2 linked regions of the Homo sapiens genome follow. Changing the gene in region 1 together with any one later gene gives a genetic interaction. Each region holds a gene or a part of one and is shown on either strand. Other genes may lie near its edges.

The links. A genetic interaction does not mean that the proteins touch.
Region 2: changes in KPNA4 (region 1) and STK11 together harm fitness more than expected from each alone (negative genetic interaction), as found in Homo sapiens cells (one large-scale study listed by BioGRID).

What each region holds. Positions count from the first base shown.
Region 1 is NC_000003.12:160,562,772-160,567,054, reverse strand, and holds the start of KPNA4 (importin subunit alpha-3), read left to right. Parts: upstream 1-1,483; 5' UTR 1,484-1,772; coding exon 1,773-1,841; intron 1,842-4,283. UniProt on the Homo sapiens protein: Functions in nuclear protein import as an adapter protein for nuclear receptor KPNB1. Binds specifically and directly to substrates containing either a simple or bipartite NLS motif.
Region 2 is NC_000019.10:1,212,278-1,215,777, forward strand, and holds part of STK11 (serine/threonine-protein kinase STK11), read left to right. Parts: intron 1-3,500. UniProt on the Homo sapiens protein: Tumor suppressor serine/threonine-protein kinase that controls the activity of AMP-activated protein kinase (AMPK) family members, thereby playing a role in various processes such as cell metabolism, cell polarity, apoptosis and DNA damage response.

The sequences.
Region 1 (4,283 bases):
TATAATGAACATCATCATTTGTATTTAAGATCTGTTCTAAATTTATATTCAAGTTAACCTTCAGTGTGAGTTATTTCCAGGCACAGCTTCTGTTGTCCATAGCCCAGTTGATGGTATATAAAGTACTGACGACTTTAAAGGTACTACTCTGCTTCCTAAGTTTTTACCTTCCTTTCCCCCACTACAATATCCTCTCCAAAGTGATCCCTAAAGTACTCCGGCTCTTTTCATTGCCTCTCCCCCAAAGGAAACTCAGTTGTTCATATCTGTTAAACCCACTAACTTCTTCCATTTTAACTTAAAAAAAAATTCCCCTCTGTTGCCTTTAAAAGTGTTTCCTTAGGAAGATCTGCATTTTAAACACTTATCTGCACGTTGTTCTACTAAAAAAATATACTAGAAAGGACCGAGAGTCAACGATTCTGAAGGAGTTTGTATCAGGGTCTCTTCTCCCTACCTCGTCAAGTTTAAACACACCCAACGCCTCGATTCCTTGCTTCCGACCCGAGTTGCTGCTTTACATATCCCTGTACATTTGAGGTGTTATTCGTTGATATTTCAATATATTTTAAAATAATTTTCCATTTCTGTTTTGTTAAATTTTTGAATACGTTCTTTTGTATCTCGTGTCATTTCTGCCTCTGGTAACGTTGTCCTTGGTATCCTTGGAACTCATTTCCTTTCTCAACACACAATATTCCCTGTCAGCTGCCACGGGCCCCGCCCTCCAGAAGTTCATACTTTGTGGTCAAGCAGCTTCTTTAACTTTTTAAGACGAATTACCTAGGAAGTGCTATTGTCCCAGGATCACCAGCTCTGCCTAAATTCCTAACTGTTGCGGGTGCTTAGTCACAGAAGATGAATCAGATTCGTCTAATGGGCCCTTTCCTTTTCCACCCACCTTTCCTGTCGCTTTCCGCTGAGCCTCCTCAACTCACGTCATCCCAGCAGGTCCTGGCCCCCAGACCCGGCCCTGGACGGCACGGAGCCCCAGCCCGGGAACGCAGCTGCGAGCGTCCGACCGGGAGACAGCGAAGCTCAGATCTCTCTGCAAAGCGAACGGAGAGCGCAAGGAATGCCCAGGAAGACAGGGCGCGCCCGGGGAGAAAAGAACGTTACTTTAACGCAGCCTCGACCCTGAACCCCCGGCATCTAGGGCTTCCTGGACGAGTGGAGCAAAACAACTCGCCCTGCTGCGTTCCCGGGCCTCTCCTTCCCCTTGCTGGTTTCCCCTTAAGTCTACTTCTCTATTGCTTCCAACCCCTCTCTCCGAAGGCACGTGGTCCTTCCCCGCCTGCCCCCGCCGCACCCCTCCGGGCCCGGAGCCGGCTCCTCCCAGCGTCGTTCGCTTCCCCTTTCCGTTCGCTCTTTCCGCCCCGGCTCTCCATCGCCCCTTCTGATTGGTCGAACGCACCGGAGCCTGGTTAGCCAATGGGCGAGCCGGGCTGGAGGCGATGGGCGTGGCCGCAGCGCCGGGGCCCTCAGATCGAGGCTGCCTCCCCCTCTCAGCCGGCAGCACATTCCGTCGCCTTGCCGCCGCCCGGCCCCACAGTTGTCTTTGCCGGAGCTGCAGTCGCGCTGGGGTTAGGGCGGGGGGGCGGGCGGGGAGAGGAGAAGGCCGCGGCGGAGGCAGGTGAGAGGAGGAAGGAAGCGGCGGCGCGGCGGGCACAGCAGCTCAGGCGGCGGCCCGGTTCCTGGGAGTGTCGGTGCGGCGCGTTGGTTGGGGCGGATCCCGCGGGGCCCGGGCGGGGGAAGGAGTCACCGGCCCGGCCATGGCGGACAACGAGAAACTGGACAACCAACGGCTCAAGAATTTCAAGAACAAAGGCCGCGACTTGGAGGTAAACTCGGGGACGACGCCGGAGGGGTGGGGGCTGTGGGCCTGGGGCCGGTCTCCGCCGGGACCCCGAGTGTGGGGATTAGGGGCGGGAGCCGCCTCCAGGCCTCGGGGAATGGCGCTAGGGGCCGGCCCGTCTGTGACGCCTCTGCTAGCGCGCCGGGAAGTTTATGTCGGGCCTGCTCCGCCTCCGCCGGGGAGCGAGGTGCCCGGGTACGGCCGGCGCGGCCTAGGCCTGCCCGGCGGAGCCGGCCCGGCGCGGGTGCGAGGGGCCGGGCCGCGCGGCGGGGAGGCCGGGCGCGGCGCGTGCGGAGGAGGCGTGCGTGTGCGGCCGGTGCTGCCCCGGCCGGGCCGCGGCCCCTTCCCCGGCAGTGGCGGAGATTCCGGCTCTCGCTCGGGCACCGACGTCTGGCGCCGCGGGAAGGAGGGCGGTGGGAATGGGAGGGTGAGCGTGTGGCGACCGAGTGGGGCTCTGAACTTCCTCAGCGAGGCCCGAGGCGTCTCCACTTAAAGGCATTTTTTCTGGTCTTCCCGACTCCCGCTTTACCCCTGCCTCCCCCCAATATCCAAACTACAGGACAACTTCTCCGTTGAAAAAAACACCCCCGGCGTGAGAGGCCATCCTGGTGATCCTAACAGTGCCTTCCAGCGGCCTGTGTTTTACTCTGGATATAGCTGATTCAAGATGTGGCTCACGGTGTGCCCTCTTCCAGGCAAAGGATACCCCTTATTTCAGCTTGTCCACAAATCTCTTTACCCCCTCCTGAGAGGAGACCACCAGCTGCATTCTTACATATAAAGTCTAAAGGGTTATACAAAGCTGTCATCCTCTAGTCTACAGTATCCTTTCCCTCCACCTGCTGGTGGTGGTAGTGGGGGATGGGGTGGGCTAGGGAATGGCACCATCACGTTTGATTATTTAAAAAGGAAAAAAAAAGCTTCATTGTCTTAGATACAGCTGCTCCCGAGATTGTCTACATAAGGTGTATGGGTTAAATACACACATGCACACACGCATACCCACACACCCCACTGAGATTTTTGATAGAAGACTTCTTCCCTTCAGCTTTTAAGAGTTTAGATAAATAGATTTAATACTTCCCTTCTGCATCTTAATCACGAGTTTAGCTTTTAGGGAAAGTGGTCAAGCAGTATTTTTTATGTTGTTCTCGGTACGTTTTCATAATGAAATCTTCAACTTCCCATGGCATTTCTGAACTTGAGAGTCTGCTTGACTGAGATATTTTTTGGGCTTTTTACAAAGCTGTTAATATTATCTTTAAAGTAGTTCAAGCGTTTTAGTGGGTTTCATAATTTGAGGGACGACTAAGTGTCCAGGGATGTTAATTCTGTGGTTCTTTTAAGGTTAACATATTACCATTGTGATCCCTTTTTTTAATGCAAAGATGTCACATCTTTATTGAGATAATTTGCATGCCATAAAAATGAGCTTCTTAAATAACAATGATTTTTCAGTAAATTTACTTGTTTATGAAAGAATGTGGTGAAAATGTTTTTTACTAATATGAATACTTAGAATGAGAAAAAATCACAAATGATAAAACTTAAAAACTGGTAAGTACCACAAAATTACAGAATCCAGAAAAATAGCAATTAGGTGCTTGACAGATCCCTATAACCCTTTTTTCCTCTACATTTCTGGCTTCATTTTTCTGGCAGCTTCATTGAGATGTAATTCGCATGCCATACAATTCACCCACTTAAAGTGGCTTTTAGTGTATTCGCAGTTTTGCAACCATCACCACAGTCCATCTTAGAACATTTTCACGGCCCCAAAAAGAAACCTGTACTCATTAACAGTCACTCTCCAATTCCCAACTACCCCAGCCCCAGGCAACCAGTTTTTGTCTTCTTAGATTTGCCTATCCTGGACATCCCATATAAATGGAATTGTACAATTTGTGCTCTTTTTTAACTGGCTTCTTTCACATAGTGTAATGTTTTCAAGGTTTATCCGTGTTGTAACAAGAATGTATCAATGTTTCATGGCCGAATGATCCTTATGGCCGAATGATCCAATGATCCTCCAGCTCATGGATATACCACATTTTATTTATCCCTTCTTCAGTTAATGAACATTTTCATTGTTTCCACTTTTTTAGCTATTTTACATAATACTACTAAGAACATTTTTGTGTGGATGTATGTTTTATTTCTCTTGGCTATATACCTAGGAATAGAATTGCTAGATCATATGGAAACTTACTTTGAACCTTTGGTGGAATTGCCAGACTTTCTGAAGTTATCCTTATTTTTTAAATTGATGTTTCCTCCTACCTCATATCTTTTGGCACTTTAGTCAAAATCAGATTAAGTCCTGAGGCTGTATTAGAAGAATATTGTGATGTGTGACTTTTAAAAAATAAGTATATATTGACATTAGCCAGGTTTTTTTGTTTTGTTTTGTTTAGAAATTCATAGTGCC
Region 2 (3,500 bases), on another chromosome or scaffold:
TTTTTTTTTTTTTTTTTTTTTTTGGAGACAGGGTCTCACTGTATCGCCGAGGCTGGAGTGCAGTGGCGCAATCATAGCTCTGGGCTCAGGTGACCCTCCTGCCCCCAAGGTAGCTGGGACTGCAGATGTGCACCACCACACCCGACTAGTTTTTTGTAGAGATGGGGTTTCGCCATGTTGTCCAGGCTGGTCTCAAACTCCTAGACTCAAGCTATCCGCCTGCCTGGGCCTCCCAGAGTGCTGGGATTACAGGTATGAGCCACTGCTTCGCCACGTTCACCTTTATTTACTTATTTATTTATTTTTGAGACGGAGTCTCGCTCTGTCCCCCAGGCTGGAGTGCTGTGGCACGATCTTGGCTCACTGCAAGCTCCGCTTCAGCCTCCCAAGTAAGCTGGAACTACAGGTGCCTGCCACCAAGCCTGGCTAATTTTGTTTTTGTATTTTTAGTAGAGACGGGGTTTCACCGTGTTAGCCAGTATGGTCTCGATCTCCTGACCTTGTGATCCGCCCGCCTCGGCCTCCCAAAGTCCTGGGATTACAGGCTTGAGTCACTGTGCCCGGCCCACCTTTTTATTTTTTATTTTATAGAGACAAGGGCTTGCTGTGTTGCCCAGGCTGGTCTTGAACCCCTGACCTTAAGTAATCCTCTCTGGCCTCCCAAAGTGCTGGGATTACAGGTGTAAGCCATAGTACTGGGCCTAAAGTTCACCTTTTTTTTTTTTTTTTTTTTTTTTGAGATGGAGTCTCGCTCTGTCACCCAGGCTGGAGTGCAGTGGCGTGATCTTGGCTCACTGCAAGCTCTGCCTCCCGGGTTCACACCATTCTCCTGCCTCAGCCTCCCGAATAGCTGGGACTACAGGCGCCTGCCACCATGCCCGGCTAATTTTTTTGTATTTTTAGTAGAGATGGGGTTTCACTGTGTTAGCCAGGATGGTCTCGATCTCCTGACCTCGTGATCTGCCTGCCTCGGCCTCCCAAAGTGCTGGGGTTACAGGTGTGAGCCACCGCACCCGGCAAAGTTCACCTTTTTAAAGTGTGTAATTCAGTGGCATATAGTACATTGACAGAGTTGCACAACTATCACCTCTATCAGCTTCCAGAACATTCTTGTTACCCCAGAAGGAAACCCCGTCTCTGTCAGCCATCACTCCCCATTCCCTCCCCAGTCCCGGCACCCACGCATTCCCTTCCTGCCTCTGGATTGGCCTGTCCTGAACATTTCACACGAGTGGTGTCACACACCGCGTGGCCTTTTGCGTCCGGCTTGTCTCACGGAGTGTGCTGTCCTCAAGGGGCATCCGCGCCGTGGCCTGGGTCCGAACCTCTCTGCTGTTCACGGCTGCGTCACTTTCCAGTGTGTGGAGGGCCACGCTGCGTTTGACTGCTCATCTGTGGCTGGACACTTGGGCTGCTCCCGCCTCTGCCTGTGAATTGTGGCTGCTTTGGTGCACGTGTGCTCAGCCGGCGTCCCTCTAGAATCCTTGAGGGCCTTGTTTCAGCCACATCAGGAGGGATTCAGGGACCAGGGCACGCGGGTCTGGAGCTGGGTGTTCCTGGGTCTCCATGTGCCTCCCAGTCCTGCTCTGAGCCGTGGGAGGCCGGGGCGAGGGCCAGGCCCATCTCTTCCCTGTATGATCTGTTTCTAGGCAGACGGAGGCTCCTAGCCCCACCTCTCTGTGAGCTTGAGTGGCGTTTATGACTCTCCTTCCTATTTCCTGTCCTGCTAATCAACAAGTCAGCTAAACAGTCCATGCTGCCTGGGCAAGCCCAGTAGGCCCCTAACGTGGCACCTCGGAGCGGCTGGCGATGCCCCAAGAGCCGGGCTTCCCCCTCCTGGAGGCTCTTCCTGTTCCTCGCCAAGCTCTTAGGTTTCGCTGGGCCTCCTCTTCTGCTCTTTTTCTGGCTGGAGACGTCAGAGGAAGCCTGGCGATCTAGAGAAGCTGATGTGCACCCATCATCCCGGAGGTGACTGCCACCAGGCGGGGGTGGCTCCACCCCCACTCCTCCCCTGGCATAAATCGGGGGACGCACGTGCCTGCGCAGAATGCCTTGGTCCCTTTTAATTAAACAGACAACCCAGTGTCCCTTGGTCTATGCTGACCTGCTCAGGAGTGCCTGGGCTCTTCCACGTTTCAGCTGCTGTGTGTCCTGCTGCTGTGAAGTGTCCCCGTTGAGGTGGAGGCAGGGCAGGGCGCCTTCGGTGAGGGCGAGTCCTCCTGTGCCCGTTTCCCCATCTGTAGAATGATGGCTCATGGAGGAGACATGGTGTCGGCAGGTGGTGGCCGGCGCAGGGAGGTTTCCAGGAGGGAGTCCTCCACCCTCATTTGCTTTTAGGGCCGTGCAGCCTCCCGAGCGGCCCCCACGAGGCTCTGAGGCTGCATGCAGGTTGAGCTCCTGGCCTCACTGCCCCTCCTCAGGGTTAGGACTGTGCTGGAGCCTGGGTGGGTGTGGGGTGGTCCCTGCACAGGCAGCAGGAGGTGGGCCAGAGCGGTGCTGGACCTGAAGGCCCGTGGCTCCCTCAGCTCCACTGAGGAGGCTGGAATAGTGTCCTGGGCCACCTTCCCTGCCGGTAGCCGGCTCCTGCTGAGGGAGGGGGTGCTTTCGCCTCCTGGTGGAGCATCAGGCTCTTGGGGCCTGTGCGTCCGAGCATCTGGCCTCTGCTGTCTGAAAACAGCACCTTCCCCGCCCCCCGGCCACCGCATCTCCTCTGAATAGAAGGCAAGTCTTGCCTCCCAGGAATGGCCTGTGACCTTCATCAGCGGGGGAGGTTAGGGGCACACAGAGCCCTGGGGAACAAGGGGATCTGGGGCTGAGCCGGGCCTCTCGGGCCCACCCCGAGCTCTCCTGAGCAGCCTGGCAGGCAGGAAGGCGCTGGGCCCCGGGGCCTTTGCCGAGCCCAGCCTCACCCTCAGCGTCCCCCTCAATGCCCTGGGTGCCTGCCAGGCTGTGGACACAGGCCCTGGCCAGTTCTATAAATAACCTTGCCGGGCCCTGCTGGGAATTGGTGCCACCACCACATAGCCCAGAGAGAACGGAAACACAGGGCTTCTCAGCGAGCAGACCAGGCCTGCGGTGACCAGTGGAAGTGGGGGACGCTTTCAGGGCTGGGCAGCCCGACAGGGCACCGGGCACAGCCAGGGGCCGGAACCAGTTGCTCACTGGCTCCGCTTCTGGGGGACTGTGTCCCTCTGTGCCCCGTCCCCATCACACCTTGCTTTCCCTTCATCCTGCTCTCCTAGCCCCTCCCCAGACTGGCGGCCCCTTGTCCAGGCCCAGCCCCAGCACAGCCTGCAGCCCTGGCAGAGCTCAGGCCTTGGCCTTCTGAGGTTGCCCTGAGGGCAGTGAGCAATGAGCCCTGGGACTGGTGCACTGGGAGGGAAAGGTGAGCCAAGGCTTCCTGCAAGAGGCAGCCCTGAGCTGGGGGTGGGGAAGGCTGGGTCGTGGGATACCCCTGACACCCCAAGTTTTTTTTTTGAGATGGAGTCTTGCTCTGTCAC